4 linked regions of the Homo sapiens genome follow. The protein of the gene in region 1 purifies or fractionates together with the protein of each later gene. This does not show direct contact. Each region holds a gene or a part of one and is shown in the gene's direction. Other genes may lie near its edges.

Region 1 (3,441 bases):
GAGGGAGAGGGAAAGGCATGGAATGCCAAAGAGAAAATGAGAAACAAGGCCTCACTGAAAACACCAGATCTGATATATAAATAGGAATATGTGTTTAACTATCTTGTATGTTTGTAAGTGTAAATGTAGAAACAAAATTCTGCTTGTTTTTGGAATTTTCTTATGAAACCTCTGAAGTATTAAAAAGAAGGTACTGTGTGTTAGTTGATGGACCTGCGGCTTTGCTGGGTTTCCGGAAGGAATTCAGTTTTGCGTGGCAGGTACTCGAGGACCTGTGGGCAGCAGGCAAGCCCAGCAGCGCCCGTGCAGGGTCCTGTGGGAGACGCCATTGGAAAGCTGGTGTGGGCAGCCTGTACCTGGGGCCTCAGCCCTGATCAGGGCACTGGGCAGCAGGGGAGGGGGCATCTGGGGCAGAAGGAGCCAGCTGCATACCCACCTAGGCCTAGGAGAAGCCCCCCACTAGCTGCATGCGAGGAGGAGCTGGCCGTGGCTCAAGGAGGGGTCCCTGTGTGTGGTCTGGGCTCCCTTCAGGAGGTGACGGGCGTGCGCATTACCTTGTGTTTAGTAACTAGAAAGGAAGGGGCTAACATCAGCCCCTGGTGATGCTGGACAGCTAAGATTTGTGAGCTGAGAGGAACTGGAGAGATCACTGAGCCCCTTCCATACACAGGAAACTGGGGGTCTGGAGGGTGAAGGCCCTAGAGCCGGGACGCACTCCACCCAGGACACTGTTCCTCCAGAGTGACTTGCTTCCCACATCAGCCAAGTGAACGAGCATTTTAGAGACATTTTCTCATAAGTTTTTTTCCTTCCCACAGAACTGAACCAACAAGGGAGAGCAACAGAAAGACAGATTCCAGGCTGGTGGATGTGTCCCCTGACAGGGGTTCTCCTCCTTCCCGTGTGCCTCAGGCACTTAACTTTTCTCCAGAGGAAAGCGATTCTACTTTCTCCAAAAGTACTGCCACAGAAGTAGCTCGGGAGGAAGCCAAGCCGGGTGGAGATGCAGCCCCTAGTGAGGTGGGCAGAACGGGCGCAGCTGGGTTCTGTTAGCTGAGATTCCTGGAGGCTGCTCGGGAAGCCCGTGGAACCCAGGGCTGTGGCTGGCGGAGTTCCCTGCCATGCTTCATCCTGGGGCCAGTGCCTCCGTGCCAAGCAACCCAAAGGGAGGCAGTCAGGACTTCCAGGCCTCCAGGGGAGAAAGCCCTGCATTTGACTAAGGCAAGGGTCAGGGATCAAAGCTGAGGAAGCGGGAAGCAGGGTGGCAGGAGCTGGTGGCTGCTGGTGAGCGGGTATGGACAGGGAGGTGGGCAACAGTCAGAGAGGCACGGCCCACCCCATACAGAGCCTCCTTCCACCAAGGCCCCGCCTGATTCCTTGGCTTTCCAAACCGCCAGCCCACCTGGAACATGAGCAAAGCTCACATTCTCCCAAGATGGTTGCCAGAAAGATGCTGGACTCTGCTCTTAACCTTGGTTTTGTACCCAGGCTCTTCTTGTAGATATCAAACTGGAACCACTCGCGGTCACTCCAGATGCTGCAAGCCAGCCCCTCATTGACCTTCCTCTCATCGACTTCTGCGATACCCCAGAAGCACACGTGGCTGTAGGATCTGAAAGCAGGCCTCTGATCGACCTCATGACAAACACTCCAGACATGAATAAAAATGTGGCCAAACCTTCACCGGTGGTGGGACAGGTGAGAAGTGGCAGGTGGTTCATGTTGACTCAGCCCTGGGTGTCCTCAGTTCTGGGATTGTTCATCCTCCCAGGGCCATCGTGGGACCCTTGAGAGTGGCTGTTGAGTCTTCTCAGCTACACACCTCAGGGCAGGATGCACCTTTGGCAGCCTGAGCTTCTCAAAGATCAGCTGCCTCTGAGGTGCCCTGCCAGGACCCTGCCAGCTCTTGTTGGACAGGGACCGCCTCTCTCCTGCCCATAGACCCCAGGGCCAGATGTGGGACAGAGGAATGTGCATGGTGGGGGCCTGGGCTTCTCCGTGTGTGTCCTGTCTCCTTCCAGCTTCTTAGACGTGGTGGCCCAGAGTGCTTTTCAGTGCACCCGAGCCAGGATGAGCGAGTGGCTGTGATGACCCACGCAGCCAGTCCTCTGTGCAGGGAGGGGAAGGGAGGCCCTAGCCGGATCCACGCTCACCTCCTCCACTCTGCTCTCTTCCAGCTCATAGACCTGAGCTCCCCTCTGATCCAGCTGAGCCCTGAGGCTGACAAGGAGAACGTGGATTCCCCACTCCTCAAGTTCTAAGCCGAACCAAATCCTTTGCCTTGAAAGAACAGCCCTAAAGTGGTTTTCAACCCTCAGAAACAAGCTTTAGGCTGGTCGCAGTGGCTTACACTTGTAACCCTAGAACTTGGGAGGCTGAGGTGGGCGGATTACTTGAGCCCAGGAGTTCGGGACCAGCCTGGGAAATATAGTGAAACTCCTGTCCCTACAAAAAATACAAAAATTAGCCGGGTGTGGTAGTGCATGCCTGTAGTCCCAGCTACTTGGGAGGCTGAAGTGGGAGGATGGCCTGAGCTCAAGGAGATGCAGGCTGCAGTGGGCTGTGATTGTGCCACTGCACTCCAGCCTGGGCACCAATGTGAGAACCTGTCTTGGAAAAAAAAAAAAAGAAACATGTTTTAGTAGAAGTTTTATTTGAAAAAGAAAAATAAGCATAAATATATTCCCAGTGCTGGAGAGGGTGGGCTGAGGGACTGGGGCCAGCACGGACCACCCAAGGCCTCTGCTTCCCGCCGCCACCCTCCTCGCTGCCATTCTCTGGGCTGGAATGTGAAGCCTCAGTCACTCTAAATGAAGAATTTTCTTTTGAATGTTTTGTATGTAAAATAGCAAGTGGCTATTTTTAAAGTTAAGTTTGTATAAATAGTTAGATATTCTAGATTTACATTAAATTGTAAAATAAATGGACTTATTGAAGCATATCTTGATTTTTAAGCTTATCTTGATTTTCAAACATGCATAGCTATTTTTATCACTCTAATCAGTAAGGCTACTATCTAGACTCGAATGCTTTCATACAAGTGATTTTCAAAAATTAGTCAATAAAAATTGATGTCAGTGCAGGCCCAGGCCCGCCCCCAGATACACTAGTTTCTAGGTCTGGGGCCAGCCTAGTAATTGTTACTAGGCACACAGGTGATGCTGACTCGATGGCCTGAGACACACCCCTTGAGAAGAAGCTGCTCTGGGGAGACGAGGGTATGAGTGGAAAGAGGATGGGCGAGGAGGCCGGGCTTACCTGGACACTAAGGTGATGGACGGCGTCTGCTGGGCAGGCCTCGGGGAGGACCCCTCAGCTTTGCTCTCAGCAGGGGCCCGACAAGCTCAGTGGGCAGTGGCAGGAACTGAGTGCCACTGGAAAGCCCATTCCCTTTATTTAGAAAACGAGCTCCAGGAAGCCGCTACTTTGTGTCCATTTCTC
Region 2 (3,500 bases), on another chromosome or scaffold:
CTGGAATCTGGGGGTCATTCTAATGACAGAAACAAAGGACCTCAGCTCCAGAAAGAAGCTGTCTCAGGCCCCATGGCTGGCAAACCATTCCGCCCCCAGTCCTTATCCAAGTATTCCCGTCACTATAGCCCAGAAGACGAGCCAAGTCCAGAAGCCCAGCCCATTGCTGCCTACAAAATTGTTTCACAAACCAACAAGCAGTCGATAGCTGGGTCTGTTTCTATCACATCCCTTTCCTCCAGGACTACGGAGCTGCCAGCTGCTGATCCATTTGCTCTAGCACCCTTCCCTTCAAAATCAGGCAAGAAACCCTAGGAGCAAAACCTGAGCCTCAAGCCTCTTGTCTCTATCCCACCCTCAATACCCGCCATGGCACTCCCAGCTTAGCCTTCTGAAGAAGAAATATTATCAGTTCTTATATTTCAATTCCCTGCGTCAGAGCAGAATTTCTTGAGTCAACAAACTCAGTTGCAGTGATATTTAGTTGAAGCCCCTTTAAGTTATGTTCATTTTTGTTTGTTTGTTTGTTTGTTTATATTGATTTCTGGACTTGGAGGCATTTTCATCTCCTTCACAGAGGTCATCCACTTCCACCAAGAACTCTGCTTTCCCCCCGCCCCACCCACAGAAACTGTTTAAATCCTGAAATACTTCTTCACCCCAATCCCAAAGGGGCCCTATTGTTGCTAGTTTTAATTCCTGTAGCTCCTGTTCTAAGTCATGCCCATCGAAGAATCAAGATTAGTCCCTCCACTAAATCAAGATTTAGTACTCTTGAAAAGGGGAGATGTCTGGAAAGAAGAGCAAGATAAAAACCCTGCACATCAACAGGAAGTATAATCCTGCAGTTACTAATAATTCCTGTAGAAGCAGCAGCTCTAGGAGTCTCCAGATCTGATTCTCAGTCTGTGTGCAAGCCAGGCTGGCTCTCGTGCATGACTGTCTATGGGTGTGGAATGTACGTCAGAGCCTGTGTAGAGATACAGGCAGATGGGCTAACTCCTCATGTCTAGTCATGCTGGCAGGGCTTTCCCCACATCCATGCTTTTGAAATTAGTGTGAGTGTACAGGTTTGTGTGTGCATGTATACGTGTGTGTGCACAGGAAGCATTTCCACTTGAGGGAAATCCTGCCCCATCATGCCTACCTCCACAATGAAATCACTCGTTTTTTGGTGTTTGCTCGCCTAACTGACTTGAACCCCATTTTATTTATTTAGTTTTTTTCTCATGGCAAAGTAGAATACGTTGGAAGGTGTAGGGAAATCCTGCTGGAACTGGTGTTTCAGAGTAAATCTTTTTTCTCTCCGGAATTTCTTGTTTTGCTATTAACAAATTATATTTACCTGATTATGAAAAATTAATTTTCCTTATACATTTTCCCCTTACAACACTAGAAAAGAGCACCTTGTTACAGTTCCGGCCTCTCAGTATGTGGGCTAAATGCCAGCATTAGGGAATTCATTAATCATGAGACTAGGCTACAAACTAGGCTTGCTTGTTTTGGGGTGGTTTTGTTGTTGTTGTTGTTGTTGTTGTTGTTGTTTCCAAATCTCTACTGCCTTTTGAGGAAATGTAAATCTGAGACATGGAAATAAGTGTTTGGGAGAATGGAAAAGAGCTGAATCAGGTAGGCATGAAAACTTTTACATTCTCTATCCTCTTTAGATGTTGAAATAGGCCAGACAGGTTAACTGATGTTTTTTAAAATTGTCTTTTATTTCTGGAAAGATCTGACTTATTCCTAGCTTTTTTCATACCCTTTATTATTAGTGCCTTAAAATAAAGCTGGCCAGGTGCAGTGCCACACACCTGTAATACCAGCATTTTGGAAGGCTGAGGCAGGAGGATCAGTTGAGCCCAGGAAGTTCAAGACCAACTCTGGCAACACAGCGAGACCCTGTCCCTTCAAAAAATAAATAAAAAAATAGGCTGGGCATGGTGGCTCACACCTGTAATCCCAGCACTTTGGGAGGCCAAGGTGGGCAGATCACAAGGTCAGGAGTTTGAGACCAGCCTGGCCAACATGGTGAAACCCCATCTCTACTAAAAATACAAAAAATTAGCTGGACGTGGTGGTGCACACCTGTAGTCCCAGCTACTCAGGAGGCTGAGGCAGGAGAATCGCTTGAACCCGGGAGGCAGAGGTTGCAGTGAGCAGAGATTGCGCCACTGCACTCTGGCCTGGGCGACAGAGCGAGTCTAAAAAATAAAATTAAATAAAATAATGAAAAAAATTAGCTGGGTATGGTGACATATGCCTGTAGCTACTCAGGAGGCTGAGCTGGAAGGATCACTTGAGCCCAGGAGTTTGAGGCTGCAGTGAGTTGTGAGTCCAGCCTGGGTGACAGAGTGAGACACTGTCTCCAAAAATATAATAATAAAAATAAAGCCTGTATCTCAATGGGAAGATTTCTGCTAAGGCAGTTCAACTCACTGGAAAGAACTGCTGCATTAGGTTTCAACTTTAATGCTTTCTGTTACTTCTAGTAAAGGTTAAGTGATTTTTCCATTAGCTGTAGAAGTTTGGAGAGCTATTTACCAAGCCAGATCAATGATTTAAAAATTATTGGAAATTCATCTAAGAATCAAGTCTGAATGCCCAATTCTATTGCGGTTGATTAGGTGTGATATTCTTTAAAGTTCAGGAATATTGGCAGTAAAAAATGAGCAGCTACTTTTCAATACTTTGTCCTTTTTTGGTGGTCTCTGCCTATTTCAAATGTCCTGATCAAAAGATAAATAATTGGCACTGTGCCAAGGTTTGGTTTTCCAACTAAGGTTTCAACTGTGCCAGAAACCTATGTCCTTCACTTTGGTGGATGCTAAATGTTATTCTAAGAATATGCTTTTTCCCAATTCTCCTTTCTGATTTTTATGTATTAGTGGATGCAAAATTGTCTTTCTAGTTGAATGAATAATTTCGGCTAATGCACGTGGAACTTTGCACCCCAGATTCTTCCCATGGTCATTATCAAGTGAAGCCCTCAAAAACATGAGCGAAGAGCCTAGAAATACTCAGGGAGATTTCTCACCCCAACTCAGAAATTTTTTTTTTTTTTTTCAAGACGGCGTCTTGCTCTGTCGCTCAGGCGGGAGTGCAGTGGTGTGATCTCGGCTCACTGCAACCTCCATTTTCCGAGTTCAAGCGATTCTGCCTCAGCCTCCCGAGTAGCTGGGATTATAGGCACACACCACCGCGCCTGGCTAATTTTTGTATTCTTAGTAGAGATGGGGTTTCACCATGTTGGCCAGGTTGGTCTTGAACTCTTGACCTTGTGATCCACCCACCTTGGCTTCCCAAAGTGCTAGGATTACAGGCGTGAGCCACCGCACCTGGCCCAGAAATTCTTTTTTTTTTTTTAAATTATTATTATACTTTAAGTTTTAGGGTACATGTGCACAATGTGCAGGTTAGTTACATATGTATACATGTGCCATGCTCGTGTGCTGCACCCACTAACTCGTCATTTAGCATTAGGTATATCTCCTAATGCTATC
Region 3 (4,055 bases), on another chromosome or scaffold:
AAGAGTGAAGCTCGGTTAAAAAAAAAGAAAAGAAAGAAAGAGAAGAAAAGAAAAGAAAGAAAGAAAGAGAAAGAAAGAAGAGAGAGAAAGAGAGAAAAGAAAGAAAAGAAGGAGGAAGGAAAGGAAAGGGAAAGGGAAAGGAAAGGAAAGGAAAGGAAAGGAAAGGGTCTCTGACCTCAGACAGGTTACAGTCTCACTAGGGAGACAAGGGTCAGGATTACGTGGGCGTCATTTTCCTCCTTACAGGCAGGCGGTGCCTCTCCCTTCAAAAGCAAGGGACCTTTATGCATGATTCCACATCTGCATTCCGATAGGAAAGGGAAACAGCAGAAACACAATACCCATCTGAGAGCTACGCTTAGAGAGGACTCTGGGCTTTTATTTATTTTTTTACTTCAGTCTTGTGACCAGTAATTTTAAGGGAAAGCCAATAATAATGTTTTTAAAAAGCCTCACGCCACCCCTGGCGGCATCTCCTCGGTGTACTTTGCTGTTCAGATCCGCCTGCCTTCTGTGCCAGCCTAACAGCGCCCGGCCTCAGCCCCCATTGTCCCTGGAGCTGGCGAGGTGTCCGGTTGCGGAGCCGGCGGCGTCTCTGGAAATGCATCCTGCATCCCCGCATGGATAACAGCTGCAGCTATGTCAGAATTGCACAAAGAGGGGAGAGTGTCATTGTGTGCCTTTTGACACATACATTAAGACCAAAAAGGAAAAAAAGCGTCTATCTGTGCTGCCACCGACCAGACTCATGGAGGCCAGATTTTCTCCAATTAACCAGATCTTGCCCTGGTGCAGACAAGACTTAGTGAGTTCGGAGGAGGGGTGGGGAGAGGGAATTGGCTGGGGTCCCTACCCTGGGTGGAAGGAGGAGGGAGGGGTTCCCCCTCCCCCTTCCCCTACCCTCCCCTCCGGGTTTAGGGAGGGGATTAGAGGTGGGGAGGAGCTGGGGGGGCGTTTGGCCTGTGCCCCAACCTTGTGAGTGAGGTGGGGGTTGGAGGTGTGCGGGGGGCGGGGCGTGTGCCGGGGTCGCCGCGGGATGGGGGGTTGGGGATGTGCGGGGAGAGGCGCGTGTCCCGAGATCGCGGGGGGTGGGGTTGGAGGTGTGCGGGTGGAGGGGCGCGCCCTGGAGTTGGGGGCGGGCGAGGCGTTTGCGGGCGCGGGGGGCGGGTTTGGAGGTGTGCGGGGGAGGGGCGTGCCCTGGAGTTGGGGGCGGGGCGAGGCGGGCTCCTCCCCGGCGGGCGGGCCCGGGCGCGGCGCGGTGGCCTCGCGGTGCCTAGGCTGGGGCTGCCGGACCGTGAGGCTGTGAGTCGCGCGGACGGAGCCGGACAAAAGCGGGCGGCGGCGGCAGGATGAACAGCATCAAGAACGTGCCGGCGCGGGTGCTGAGCCGCAGGCCGGGCCACAGCCTGGAGGCCGAGCGCGAGCAGTTCGACAAGACCCAGGCGAGCGGGCGGCGGGCGGCGGGCGGCGGGCGGCGGCGGGCGGGCGGGCAAGCGGCGTCCCTGACCCCTCACGCGCGAACGGCTGGGGCCCGGGAGGCGCCGGCCAGGGGCGGGGGACGGCGCGGGGGCAGGGCCTGTGTCCGCCCGGGCTCTCCGAGAGCTCCGCTGCCGCCCCCCGCCGGCCTCCGCGGCCCGAGCCGACCGGCGCGCAGGTGAACCGGAAGCCGCGCTCCCCGCTCCCGCCGGGCGCTCGGGCCCAGAGGCGCCGGGGCTGAGGGGGCCGGGGTCAGGGTGTGCGCGGGCCGGGAGCGCCGGAGCTGAGGCGGCGGGGGACGGAGATGGGGCCGGGGTTGGGTGTGCGCGAGCCCAGCGCGCCGGGGGTCGAGGGGGCTGGGGATCCAGGTGCTCCCGGGGCCGGCGCGGCCCGACTGGGGTCCCCGACCTTCCGTGCCGCTCCTTGCCGGCTCCTGCCCCCGTCTCCTACCCCCTGAAACCGATGCCCCCACGGGCAATTTCCTTAAAGGAAATTCCTTAAACTCCCAGCTTCCTTCTCTCGTGAGCGGTTTCCCAGGGCTGCACAGTCTCCTATTATTTGCTGGGTGAAAAGCTTCTCGTATGTCGCCAGACTTGTTTGCCCGAGCGCTGCCCACGTATAAATAGGTGCACACCCCCTCATTAAATACCGGCGCCCGACAGACAGAAACTTCCTGGGGCTCCCTTCCTGCGCCTCCCACGCTTGTAACTCTTCCAGATGATGCCTATCCTGGGAAGGCGTTAGAAATGAAATAAGGGCGCGGGTGTGCGTTTTGTACTTGTGTTTGTGCCGGGGACCCACGATGCAGACGTTGCTGCGTTTCTGGTTTCCTGTTGCTTTTTATTTTACAAACTCTTGAAGTGCTCTCAGGCTTGGGGGATGGGCGGTGGAGGGGGGCATACTTGTTTATTTGCCAAAATAAGTCAACCAAGACTGAAATGGCTGAAAAATTTTACTCTAGAGATAAAGGAAGCCAGAGGACCCCTCCCACTCCTGTCTAAAGCAGGTTGGTGACATTTGCGTTTGTGGCGGCTATTTGCAAGTTCCGTCCCACTTGTCCTTGCAGAGAGCTATGACTTCTGCGGTTGCCTTCACATCTAGTTAGCACACGCACTCTACAACAGCTTTCGTTTTGAAATGAGAGAGAACGCAGGGAGACCTTCTAACCTTTGTGCTTGGGATTGACCCAGAAAGCGATAATAAATCCTGAGGATATCAAGGCTTTAGAAATGCGAAGTGCTGGAACCCAGGTGGCTGCAAATTACCAATTTAGCCTTGTGATCTTCATCACCATCAACTGGTTCAGCCCGGATAGCCCGTCATTTTAAAAAAATTTAAAGTCACCAATACATAATTAATTGTGCCAAGAACTTGTAGATCATAGGGAGAAAACCTGAATTGGCAGACATATCTGGATGTTGTCAGAAACTTTGTTTATTCACTGAGTTTTTTCTCGTGCCTTTGAGGACGTATAAAGAGGTCTGATTGCTACATGGAGGAGATGGGATGTGAAGGACCAACTTCATTGATCTTACTCTTAAATGATAAGAAGTCAAGGGCAACCTTCCTGAGTGTCAAAGAGAGAATCTCTGATACAGGACCACACATTTTAGTGGTTGGTTTGATACACAAGAAGGTGGATTTTTTTTTTTTTTTTTTAAAGACAGAGTCTCTCTCGTTGCCCAGGCTGGAGTGCAATGGCATGATCTCAGCTCGCTGCAACCTCCGCCTCCCGGGTTCAAGTGATTCTCCTGCCTCAGCCTCCCAAGTGGCTGGGACTACAAGCGTGCGCCACCACACCTGGCTAATTTTTGTGTTTGCAGTAGAGAAGGTGTTTCACCATGTTGGACAGGCTGGTCTCGAACTCCTGACCTCAGGCGATCCACCCGCCTCACCTCGGCCTCCCGAGATGTTGGGATTACAGGCACCTCTCCGAAGGTGGATTGTTTTGTTTTGTTTTGCTCTGGTTTTTTCTCAGAGGCTAAGAGGGCCACTAACAATGAATAACTTTGTAATGGGTGAATGTCACAGGTCTTACCTATTCTAGGGCCCCATTTTCTGGAAAGTTGGAGTTTGAGTTCATTGTCTGGGTTTGCTCGTCTTCACAGTGACTTATTGAGGAATGTAAGAATGAGGTTTTGTACGTGGTTAATATTTAATTAGATCGTTCCCAGAAATAATCAGGTGAGCCGCCAGCCAGGTCCCGTGGTGGAAAAGGACCTGGAGAGCTGAGGTTGTTACTTCCATGTCTCCTTCGGGACAGAAAATAGCACATGCAGTCCAGGGACCTGGCTTCCTTTGTAATACGCTGCTTGTCTTGCATTGACCACAGCACTGTGTGCTGTGGCAGGAGCACTAGGCTGGCTTAGAATTTAAATATTCACTAGCCTGCCAGCCTCGCTTTCCTCCCCTGGGCTCCTGGGTCAGGAGGAAGATAATTGCTTTCCTGTGAGCTTTTTTGACAGGACACACCCTGTTTGCAAATATCTGTGGGGTTAGCGCTCAGGAGTGTGAAGAGAGGCGATCATGTGCCTGCTGGGAGCTGGTGCCTGTGATTGTTGCATGGTGTGTGTGTATAA
Region 4 (3,500 bases), on another chromosome or scaffold:
TCTTTTACAAGCTTTTAGAGGGCTTCCTCATCTTTTCTTCTTTCACTGCTTCTAGCACATTTTTGCACATAAAAAACATTCTGTAAATATTTGTGGATTTCAGCTATATCAAAGGCAAAGAAGTGGTATTTCATTTGGCCCACAGAGTTAGAGGAAGAGGAAGCGGTCAAGAGATCGTCACAGAGATGGGAAGGCCTAGTCAACACTAAGGAAACGATGTACCTGCAGTGCCAGATGACTGTGGCTCTGAGTGGCAGAGAAGAGTTTTGTGAGATAAAACTGCAAAGTAGAGTTGTGCCCAAACTAGAGAGGGCCTTGAGTTTAAACTAAGGAAATTCAGTTTCAGGGAAATCATTTCATAGTTTTAACTTCAGGGGTGCGTCTTGCTAAAGGACCATTTAATTATTGCGTAATGGTCCATCATTTAGAAAGATGTCTCTCACTTGTGCTGCATCAGATGAATTAGAAACCAGAGTCTGGAGGTGGGGAGATCCATTAGGAAGTCTTTATGTAGGAGTTTAGGCCTAAGAAGTGAAGCCTAGTGTCAAATCTAGGTTAGTAGCAAAGGTAACTGAAAAGGAGGGACGGATGAGATAGGTAAGTGACAGAGCTCTGCTTTCATACCGAGATGTCAGTAATATAAGAATTAGTGGTTTTACCTTTGAAATTAAATTGTTGGTCACCTTCCTGCCCAGTTTTTTGCCAAGCTTTTACTGTCTTATTAATGCCTTAACTGCTTATCTAACCAATCTTTAAGCATGTTGTTATTAGTTGTCTAAACATTTCAGAGAAAAATATGAATTTTTCATAGGTCACTAAGCAGTTCGATTTGCTAAATTCTTACTAGAGAAAGTCATGTTTGACAGTATTTTGTTTTTATTTCATTTTCAAAGTAACCTTTATACATCTGTTTATGTATTCATGTCTATGTGATTGTCTTAGCTGAGACTTTAGCAGCCTTGATTCTACGTCCTCATTTGACAGAGGGGAAACCAGACAGGGGGTAAAGGAGATTGCACAGAGCTTCACAGTTACTTTATGGCAAAGCTGGAAGAAAGAAAATATACACGAGTTTCCAATTCTTTTGAGCCTCTAGGCCATATGACTAATTTAAATGTTTAAGCCTGATTTTTAAAAATCTTGACAGCTTGATTACTTAAATGTATTCATTGCTCCTGAATGTATCAATTTTAGCATATGAGTAATGTCTTTAAAAACTGAATACAGGCATACCTCATTGCAGTTAGCAGATACAGTGTTTTTTATAAATTGAAGGTTTGTGGCAACTCTGCATTGAGCAAGTTTATCCGCGCAATTTTTCCACAGCCTGTGTTCACTTCATGTCTCTGTCACATTTTGGTAATTCTCACAATATTTCAAACTCTTTCATTATTATTATTTGTTATGGTGATCTGTGATCAGTGATCTTTGATGTTACTAGTGTAATTGTTTTGGAGCACCACAAACCCAGCTCGTATAAGACAGCAAACGTAATTGATAAATGTTTTGTGCAGTCTGACTGCTCTACCTACCAGCTGTTCCCCGGTCTTCCTCTCCAAGGGCCTCCATATTCCCTGAGACATAACAGTATTGAAATTAGGCTGATTAACCCTACAGTGGCCTCTAAGTGTTCAAGTGAAAGGAAGAGTCGCCCATCTCTCCCTTTAAATCCGAAGCTAGAAATGATAAAGCTTAGTCATTAAGTGTTGAAAGCTGAGGTAGGTCAAAAGCGAGGCCTCTTACACCAGTTAACTAAGTTGTGAATGCAGAGGAAAAGTTCTTGAAGGAAATTAAAAGTCCTATTCCAGGAAACACAAATGTTAAGAAAGTAAAACAGCTTTATTGCTGATATTGAAAAAGGGTGAGTGGTCTGGATAGAAGATTAAACCACCCTTAACATTCCCTTAAGCCAAAGCCTAATTTGAAGCAAGATCCTTAGTCTCTTCAATTCTGTAAAGGCTGAAGGCTGAGAAATAGGTGAGGAAGCTGCAGAAGAAAAGTTGGAAGCTAACAGGTCAGTTTATGAGGTTTAAGCAAAGAAGCTATCTCCATAACAAAAAAGTACAAGGTGAAGCAGCAAGTGCTGATGTAGAAGCTTTAGCAAGTTATTCAGAAGAGCTAAGATCATTGATGAAGGTGGCTACGCTAAACAATAGATTTTCTTTTTTTTTTTTTTTTATAGACAGAGTCTCACTCTGTCACCCAGGCTGGAGTGCAGTGGCGTGATCTCGCCTCAATGTAACCTTCGCCTCCCGGGTTCAAGTGGTTCTTCTGCCTCAGCCTCCCCAGTAGCTGAGATTACAGGCACGCACCACCACGCCAGGCTAATTTTATATTTTTAGTAGAAATAGGGTTTCACCATGTTGGCCAGGCTGGTCACATACTCCTGACCTCAGGTAATCCACCCACCTCGGCCTCCCAAAGTGCTGGAATTACAGGCATGAGCCACCATACCTGGCCAGATTTTCAATGCAGGTGAAGATGCCATCTAAGACTTTCCTAGCTAGAGAGGAGAAGTCAATGTCTGGCACCAAAGGACAGGCTGACTGTCTTGTTAGGGCCTAATGCAGCAGGTAACTTTAAATTAAACCAATACTCACTGACCACTATGAAAATCTCAGGGCTTTTCAAAAGTATGCTAAATCTACTCTGCCTATAGTCCATAAATTGAACCACAAAGCCTGGGTGACAGCACATCTGTTTACAGCATGGTTTACTGAGTATTTTAAGCCCATTGTTGAGACCTACTTCTCAGAAAAAAGTTTCTTTTGAAAACGTTACTGCTTCTTGACAATGTGCCTGGTCACCCAAGAGCTCTGATGGCAATGCATGAGAAGGTTAATGTTCTCATGTCTGCTAAAGCGGCATCCATTCTCCATGAATCAAGGAGTAATTTCTTCTTTCATCTCTTATTATTTGAGAAATTCATTGTAAGGCTATATCTAAGGCTATAACGCCCATAGATAGTGATTCTTTTGATGGAACTGGACACAGTAAATTGAAAACTTTCTGGAAAAGAATCACCATTATAATTTTTATGTTATTTATTGTTGTTGTTGTTGTTATTATTATTATTTTGGAGAGATGAGGTCTCACTATGTTGCCCAGGCTGGTCTCAAACTCATGGGCTCAAGCAATCCTCCCACTTTGGCCCCCCAAAGTGCTGGGATTATAGGTGTGAGCCACCAGACCCAGCCATTCACTAGATTCTCTAAAGAGTATCTAGAAACCTCCTTTTCAGATCCTTGACTCCCGGATTAAGAGCCTTTCTCACTCAGAAGTCTTCCTTGATTTGTCCCTTTTTCTTTCCAGGCTCAGAGAAAGAAGTCCCACTTCCTTTTCAAAGCAGATCCCTTTTGCTACTTTGTTTTGTTTTGTTTTGTTTTGAGACAGAGTCTCCTTCTGTCATTCTGTCTGCTCAGGCTGGAGTGCAGTGGGGCAATCTCAGCTCACTGCAACCTCCGCCTCCTGGGTTCAAGCAATGCTCATGTCTCAGCCTA

What was found. The genes of interacting proteins can lie anywhere in the genome.
Region 2: the proteins of GTSE1 (region 1) and AAK1 purify together in Homo sapiens (affinity purification with mass spectrometry; one large-scale study listed by BioGRID and IntAct). This does not show direct contact.
Region 3: the proteins of GTSE1 (region 1) and HIP1R purify together in Homo sapiens (affinity purification with mass spectrometry; one large-scale study listed by BioGRID and IntAct). This does not show direct contact.
Region 4: the proteins of GTSE1 (region 1) and SYNRG purify together in Homo sapiens (affinity purification with mass spectrometry; one large-scale study listed by BioGRID and IntAct). This does not show direct contact.

What each region holds. Positions count from the first base shown.
Region 1 is NC_000022.11:46,327,870-46,331,310, forward strand, and holds the end of GTSE1 (G2 and S phase-expressed protein 1), read left to right. Parts: intron 1-818; coding exon 819-1,020; intron 1,021-1,488; coding exon 1,489-1,698; intron 1,699-2,177; coding exon 2,178-2,261; 3' UTR 2,262-2,941; downstream 2,942-3,441. UniProt on the Homo sapiens protein: May be involved in p53-induced cell cycle arrest in G2/M phase by interfering with microtubule rearrangements that are required to enter mitosis. Overexpression delays G2/M phase progression.
Region 2 is NC_000002.12:69,462,240-69,465,739, reverse strand, and holds part of AAK1 (AP2-associated protein kinase 1), read left to right. Parts: coding exon of another isoform or gene 1-315; 3' UTR 316-3,500.
Region 3 is NC_000012.12:122,834,202-122,838,256, forward strand, and holds the start of HIP1R (huntingtin-interacting protein 1-related protein), read left to right. Parts: upstream 1-1,255; 5' UTR 1,256-1,349; coding exon 1,350-1,442; intron 1,443-4,055. UniProt on the Homo sapiens protein: Component of clathrin-coated pits and vesicles, that may link the endocytic machinery to the actin cytoskeleton. Binds 3-phosphoinositides (via ENTH domain).
Region 4 is NC_000017.11:37,602,919-37,606,418, reverse strand, and holds part of SYNRG (synergin gamma), read left to right. Parts: intron 1-3,500. UniProt on the Homo sapiens protein: Plays a role in endocytosis and/or membrane trafficking at the trans-Golgi network (TGN). May act by linking the adapter protein complex AP-1 to other proteins. Component of clathrin-coated vesicles.